Linked DNA regions of Homo sapiens. The protein of the gene in region 1 interacts with the protein of each later gene in a pairwise test. Each region holds a gene or a part of one and is shown on either strand. Other genes may lie near its edges.

Region 1 (4,472 bases):
ACAGAGCTACCATTTGACCCAGCAATCCCAGTACTGGGTATATACTCAAAGGAAAATAAATCATTCTACCACCAAGACACATGCACCTGTATGGTCATCACAGCACTATTCACAATAGCAAAGACGTGGAATCAACCTAGGTGATCATCAGTGGTGGATTGGATAAAGAAAATGTGGTAGGCATTCACCACAGAATGCTATGCAGCCATAAAAAAAGAATGAAATCATGTCCTTTGCAGCAACATGGATGCAGCTAGAGGCTGTTATCCTAAGTGAATTAATGCAGGAACATAAAACCAAATGCCACACATTCTCATTTATAAGTGGGAGCTAAACATCGGGTACTCGTGCGCATAAAGATGGGAACAACAAACAATGGGAACTACAAGAGGGGTCAGGGAAGGAGGGGTCAAGGGTTTAAAAACTAACTATTGTGTACTATGTTCAGTACTTGGATGACAGGGTCATTCGTACCCCAAACCTCAACATCACACACTATACCCAGGCAACAAACCTGCACATGTACCCCCTAAATCTAAAATGAAAGTTGAAAACATAAAATTTCTCAGGAACTACATGTGTGTGTATATATATATACATACATACACACACACATATATACACACACATTGCACATAATGGGCTAGCTTTCTCTTTTGTCTCTCTCTCTATATATACACACACACATATATATACATATATATATACTGCACATAACATTGGGCAAACTACTTGAACAGACACTTTACAAAGAAAGATATAGAAATGGCCAGTGAGCACATAAAAGCATACTCAACATAATTAGTCATCAGGGAGATGATAATTGAAATAACAATGAGATGCCACTTCCCACCCTTTCAAATGGCTAAAAATAAAGGCTGACAACCTCAAATGTTGATGAGGATGGGAAAGAAAAGGAGCTCGCATACATTTCTGGTGGGAATGTAAATTGCACAACCACTTTGGAATACATTCTGGCAGTTTCTTATAAAACATAAAACTATCCTGTGATGTGGCAATTCATCTCTTAGGTATTTGCCCAAGAAAAATGAAAGCATATGTCCACACAAAGATGTGTACATGAATATTCATAGTAGCTTTATTTATAATCGCCCAAACTGGAAACAGCCCAGATCATAACCTGGTGAATGAACAAACCAACTCTGATATATCCAAACAATAGCATACTACTCAGCGATAGCACATTCAACAACATAGATAAATCTTGAAAACATCACGTTGAATGAAAGAATCCAGACACACAATAGTACATACGATCTGATTCCATTCATACAGAATACTGGCTTTCCAGTCTTCGCCCTCAGTTCCCGACCCTTCACTCCCCCCACCACCATCTTGAAGATGCCCAAGGGGGAGAGGTCCCTTCCATTCCTTCGTTCCTTCCTTCGTCTGCTGGTCGATTTGTTCGCTCGTTCATTCATTCATTCGCACGCTCATTCCACTCCTCCCCACCTCCACCCAAGCGTCCAGCCCGCGCGCGCCGCTCCCCCGCAGGCTGATCAGACTTGCCTGCCCAGTCCGCCCCCGCCCAAACCCCGCCCCCTTCCCGCCACGCCCCCTTCCCGGGCCAATCGGGGACGAGACTGGGGCCGGGGCGGGGCCTCGCTCCCTCAGAACCCCCGGCGGCGCTCACGGCTCCGGAAACGCGCCGCGGGGCTGTTAGCTCGGCTGGGCACGGGCGGCTCCGTGGCGCTTCCTGCCACGCCAGGCCTGCCTGGGCCGCGCCAGCGCCGCTCCACCGAGGGCCGCGCGTCGGCCGCCGCCGGGCCTGGGTGAGTGTGCGGGCCGCGGGAGGATGTGCGGGGGGCGCTGGAGGGGCCGCAGGGCGGAGGTGATCGTGGGGGCGGCAGGAGGACGTGTGGACCTGAGTGAGCGTGCAGGGCCGCGAGAGGATGTGCAGGGGGTGCAGGACTGTGTGCGGGGCTGGAGCGAGTGTGCGGGCCGCAGAAGAGTGCACGGTGGAGGGAGGGGGCGTCTCTGGGCAGTTGGAGAGCTGCTCGGCCTTGGGCGGGCCAGAGCAGGGAACGGGTCCCGGATGACGAGTACGAAGAGGCCCGAAGGCCTTCCCGAGGCGGGCGGGGGGCGGCGATCCCGGGTGGGAATCGCTAAAGTGTAGAGGCCTGCTCTGCTCTTTGGGGGACGCTAGGAGATGGGAACCGCTCAGGGGCGGAGAGAAAGGACCCCTGCCCCTAGCTCCTAGGAGCCCGATCTGGAGGGGGCATTGTAGGGGTGGGGGTTAAAGGACTTTTCCCTGGTCTAGGGGAGGGACTGAGCCGCAGTCTGGGAGCTGGGAGGGTGGGCCAGGTGGGAACAGTTCCCGCTGGGGAGTCCCTCCTTTCCTTTTGAGTGGGTGGGAGTGGGGGGGGGCGGTTAAGCCTCAGCTTGGTGGGGAGAATGGGGGCCGGTAGGTAGCCTAGAGAGAGAGCTGTGGAGAGGCAGGGGAAAGGGGGCGGTGAGCCGAGCTCAAGGCCCTCTGTCTGAACCAGTCTTTTTCTGTCGCCCTACTGGGGGCCGCCATCTCCCACTTCAGTGCCCCCGCCCCCTTAAACTCCTTTGCTGGCTCCTCCAGTCTATATTTGGGTGATTAATTATATATCTTTTCCACACACACCCCCCACTCGCCTGCCGCCCAAAGTCCATGGTCCCTTTCAAACAACCCCCTGCCCCCATTCCTGGCCCACTTCCCAGAGGTCCCACCCTGCCACCTTGTTCCAACTGAAGCCCTCCAGCCAGCCTTGACCTAGCTGGGCATGCGGCCCCCTCCAGTCTCCTTAGTCAATGAAACATTTCCTCTTCAACCTCAGCCCGACATTTTTCCTTTACAAGAGAATTTCAGATGGGATTGCTGGAACAGCACCTCCCCTAGGTACTAATGCTGCCTCAGCCCCTCCCCACCCTCACCTTCCCCCAACCCTGCAACATTGGACCTTCAAGTAGAAGCCACTTGCACAGTATCTGGCCCAGTTCAGTACATCCCCACAAAATGTTACTAGGGGGATGTACTGAACTGGGTCAGACACTGAGTTTTATATATAGAACCCTATTGAGCAGTAATTTGCAGCCTTCTGTCTGTGAGGGACCCCTTGGAAATCTACCAGAACTTGTGAATTCTCTTCTAACCATCAGCACAGACTCAGAGATAGTGGGCTCCCATTTCAGCAGGTTCCTGGGCAGGAATCCTGTCAGTAACAGAGATTCTGAGAGTTGGAGAATCTGGGAACCTCCAGATTCTAGACAGGCCCAGTGTTAAGGAGGTGCAGCTCTGCATCATAATCTCCTGGGGTGCTTGTTGAAAAATGCAGACTCCTTGGTCTCTCCCAAACCTGCGAAACTCCCACATGAGTTCTTAGTGAACTCCACACCAACTTTCTCACCCAGTGATCCAGCCCTTACCCAAACCTGCCTGGGCTCCTTGGATGGCCCTGGGCTCTTTGCAATTTGCATAGCATCCCACCCCACCCCCAATTTCGACCTTTGTATCCAGGCGATGTTACCTAAAGGAAGCTATACTTAAAATTTATTTCGATTTTTAGTAAGATGCCATGAATCTTCTTGGAGAAATGGGAACACAAAGCTTTCCTCAATTAAGTACAACAAACACTACAAAATCCCCTTCTGGTCTACCTTCTGGCTTTTTATAGAAAGGAAATAAGATAGAAACCCAAACAGAAAGAGACAGGTGCCCAGGCAAAGTGAGAGGAAACAGATGCCTTCCCACCCACACATACAGAAAAAGGCACACACAGACACAAATACCCCAAGAGAGACAGACTTTCCTGGTGAGACACCCTCTCTTTAGGCCCTTCAGGATTCTGCTACTTCGAGTAGCAGCCTGTTTGCTGCTTTGGGACGGGACGGGATGGGCCCACGTGGGGCCTTCACTTCCGCCTCCTGGCCTGTCAGGTGGAAAGAACATGAAGGCCAGGCTCAGCGTGGCCCAGGGCTTGGCTCAAGGGTTGCATCCTGGCCTGGCTAGGGTGGATCCAGATCGTGGCAGTATATATTCAGTTGAACCCTGTATCTGGCCCAGTTCAGTACATCCCCCAAAATGTGGGGGACATGTTCCTGGGAGGTGCACACAGGTCTGCTTCTGTTCACCTGAATTATTGCAATCCAACAGATGGGGCCTTACCTGCCAGGCTGATCCCTTGGAGTAGTTCTGAGGCATGATGAGTCATCCGTGTGTGTCTCTTTTGGGTAAGTCTGGGTGTTTATGCATGGTGTCTGCTGGCTTTGACGCTGGGCATGCTATCAGAAGACCCTATAGGTGGGGTTACAACATGGTGAGGAGTATCGTTTTGGTTCCGGAAGCACTTATATTTTCATCTGTGCCACTGTTGCTGAACTGTCTTTGCCCAGAGACAGTTCTCTCAATCCAAGCAATACAACTCACAGGAGAAAAGATATTCAGGAAAGAGAATCTGGAGTCTAATCTCCCTTTTGGATGGGAG
Region 2 (3,818 bases), about 110 Mb from region 1:
TATGGAAAACACCATAAAGATAAGTAACAAATGGGGCAAATATCCATTAAACATGTTTTCAAACATTTTGGTTGACTTCCATTTTTTTAAACAATTATTTGTTCATGCATTCATTCAACAAATATTAACCTAACATTGGCTATACGATAAGTACTGTTCTAGGTAATGGGGATACTGCTGTGAACAAAATAAAGTCCCTGTCCCCACGAACTCAGCTTGGAACCCAAACTCTTTTTTTTTTTTTTTTTTTTTTGAGAGGGAGTCTCGCACTGTCCTCCGGGCTGGAGTGCAGTGGCGTGATCTTGGCTCACTGCAACTTCCACCTCCTGGGTTCAAGCGATTGTCCTTCCTCAGCCTCCCGAGTAGCTGGGATTACAGGTGCCTGCCACCACACCCAGCTAATTTTTTGTATTTTTAGTAGAGATGGGGTTTCATCATGTTGGCCAGGCTGGTCCCAAACTCCTGACCTCGTGATTCACCCGCCTCGGCCTCCCAAAGTGCTGGGATTACAGGCGTGAGCCACCACACCTGGCCCCAAATTGTTTCCCTACCGTAAATGCCTAGAGAAGAAATCACTGTCAGTGGTATGAGTAGTTATAAGGTTCTTGATACAATCAATTTGAACTGTAGTCATCAAAATTCAAGAACTGGGCCATCATGGTGGCTCACACCTGTAATCCCAGCACTTTCGGAGGCTGAAGCGAGTGGATCACCTGAGGTACGGAGTTCGAGACCAGTCTGGCAAACATGGTGAAACCCCGTCTCTACTAAAATACAAAAATTAGCCGGGTGTGGTGGCACGGGCCTGTAATCCTTGCTACTCAGGAAGCTGAGGCACAAGAATCCCCTGAGCCTGGAAAGCAGAGGTTGCGGTGAGCCAAGATCGCACCACTGAACTCCAGCCTGGAAGACAGAGTGAGACTATCTCCACAAACAAAAACAAACAAACAAACAAACAAAAAAAAAAGGAAAAAAAATCAAGAACTGAACAGATATGAATAAATTTATAAATTTTCAGATGAAATTATCCTGAACTCTCTTGACATCCAATATCCAAACCAAATAAATTCAGGTATTGAACTCTTGCTATCTAAACTCAGGAAGGGAACATATTTGGATAGAAAGGAATATTTTTAATTGGCCACCAAAGCACTCTGAACAAACACCTTCCAAAGGCATATCCCTTTTATAAAGCATTTCTAGGATGCTGGACTGAATCATCATATATGAGGATCTTCACAAAATGAGTATATTTCTAGAAAATATAAAATGCTAAAATTGGCAGAAGAGATGAAATGGTAATCAAAAACCAGCTCCAGATGCTTTTATTTTATTATTTTTTGAGACAGGGTGTCACTCTGTCACTGAGGCTGGAGTGCAGTGGCATGATCATGGCTTACCACAGTCTCAACCTCCCAGACTCAGGTAATCCTCCTGCCTCAGCCTCCTGAGTAGTTAGAACTATAGGCACCTGCCACCACGCCCAGCTAATTTTTGTATTTTTTGTAGAGACAGAGTTTCGCCATGTTGCCCAGGATCGTCTCGAATTCCTGGGTTCAAGTGATCCAACTGCCTCAGCCCACTGCGCCCAGCCTCCAGATGCTTTTAAAGGTGAGTCCTACCAAGTTTTTCGAGGTACAGATAATTCTTATACAAGTTTCTCCAATAAAGAGAGAATAACAAAGGCTGCCCAATTCATGTAATGAGGCTACCTTGATTCCAATGCCAGATAAATACTGAAAATAAAAATATTGGACTACCTCACTGATAAATACAGGTGTAGATATCCTAGATGATACAATGGCTAATAAAATCTAACAAGGTTTTAAAAATATACATAAATCACTTAAATAACATTTCTGCCAAAAACTCATGAGTAAGCATCAGAAAAATCCAAACTGAGAAACATTCTATAAAACAACTAACTTTAAAACATGCTTTCAATATAATCCATAGGTTCAGGAAAAAAAAAAATGACAAGGTCATAAAAGACAAAGATAGAATAACTGTTTCAGATTAAAGGAGACAAGGAGCTCAATGCAATACATGATCTTGGACTGGATCCTGGATTGGGGAAAACCATTATAAAGGACATTATTGAGAAGAGTGATAACATCTGAATATGGGCTTTATATAGAATAAAAGTACTATATAATTGTTTAATTTCCTGATATTGATAAGTATATTGTGGTTATGGAAGAGAACACCTTTGTTCTTAAGACGTACATGCTGCCAGACTTAAAAGGTCATGTCAGGCTGGATGTGGTGGCTCATGCCTGTAATCCCAGCACTTTGGGAGGCCGAGATGGGCGGATCACCTGAGGTCGGGAGTTTGAAACCAGCCTGATCAACATGGAAAAATCCTGTCTCTACTAAAAATACAAAATTAGCTGGGTGTGGTGACGCATGCCTGTAATCCCAGCTACTTGGGAGACTGAGGCAGGAGAATCGCTTGAATGCAGGAGGAAGAGGTTGCAGTGGGCCGAGATTGCACCATTGCACTCCAGCCTGGGCAACAAGAGTGAAACTCTGACTCAAAAAGAAAAGTCATGGCTGCCACCAACTCAAACGATTAAAAAAAACGTGTGTGTGTGTGTGTGTGTGTGTGTGTGTGTGTGTGTGTGTCTATGTAAAGATATAGAGCTATAGGGTGGGCCAGGCGCGGTAGCTCACGCCTGTAATTCCAGCACTTTGGGAAGCTGAGGCAGGTGGATCACCTGAGGTCAGGAGTTTGAGACCAACCTGACCAACATGGTGAAACCTCGTTTCTAATAAAAATACAAAAATTAGCCAGGCGTACTGGCAGGCGCGTGTAATCCCAGCTACTTGGAAGGCTGAGGCAGGAGAATTGCTTGAACACAGGAGGCGGAGGTTGCAGTGAGCCAAGATCACGCCATTGCACTCCAGCCTGGGTGACAGAGTGATTCCGTCTCAAAAAAAAAAAAAAAAAAAAAAAAAGATATAGAGTGATAGAGCAAATGTGGCAAAATACTTAAAACAAGTAATTCTGAGTAGAGGATATATGGGAATTCATTATACTTTTTCTTGCAACCTTTCTGTAAATTTGAGATATTTTCAAAGTAAGAAGTCATAAACATATACATACATACCATGATCAAGTGGGGTATAGCTCAAGAATGCCAAGGATATCATTTAATGCAATTTACAAAATTTTTATTTATTTTTTTGATATGGAGTCTCACTCTGTTGCCCAGGATGGAGTGCAGTGGCACGATCTCAGCTTATTGCAACCTCCACCTCCCAGGTTCAAGCGATTCTCATGTCTCAGTCTCCCCAGTAGCTGGGATTACAGACATGCTTCACCACGCCTGGCTGATTTTTTTATTTTTAGTAGAAATGAGGTTTCACCATGTTGGCCAGGCTGGTCTTGAACTCCTGGCCTCAAGCGATCCAACCACCTTGGCCTCCCAAGGTGCTGTGATCCACCATGCCAGGCCACAATTTATGAAATTAATGGACAAAGGGAGAAAAAAAGCACAGGATTTTGAAGTTCAATACTTATTTATGGTCAATCTTAGCAAACGAAGATTAGATAATTTTCTTGATTTATTAAAGGATACATTCTAAAAACTTACTGCATGCACCATACTTAATGGAGAAACTTTAGACACATTCCCTTTTATTCCTCTCCCTTCTTCCTACTGTCTCAACTGCCATGTGCTGAGGATGGCTACACAGAAGGGGCTGCCTGTCAGCCCTAGATTAATTGCTCTTCTGCAGACTGCCTTTATGGGAAAGAAAAGTAAACTATCTTGTCTAAGCCATTATCCTTTGGACTTTCTGCCACAACCAGCCAA

The links.
Region 2: the proteins of ZNF275 (region 1) and RBM10 interact in binary tests that used the Homo sapiens proteins (3 or more experiments, as listed by UniProt).

What each region holds. Positions count from the first base shown.
Region 1 is NC_000023.11:153,332,493-153,336,964, forward strand, and holds the start of ZNF275 (zinc finger protein 275), read left to right. Parts: upstream 1-1,660; 5' UTR 1,661-1,793; intron 1,794-2,969; exon of another isoform or gene 2,970-3,045; intron 3,046-4,141; 5' UTR 4,142-4,187; coding exon 4,188-4,218; intron 4,219-4,472. UniProt on the Homo sapiens protein: May be involved in transcriptional regulation.
Region 2 is NC_000023.11:47,151,582-47,155,399, reverse strand, and holds part of RBM10 (RNA-binding protein 10), read right to left. Parts: intron 1-3,818. UniProt on the Homo sapiens protein: Binds to ssRNA containing the consensus sequence 5'-AGGUAA-3'. May be involved in post-transcriptional processing, most probably in mRNA splicing. Binds to RNA homopolymers, with a preference for poly(G) and poly(U) and little for poly(A).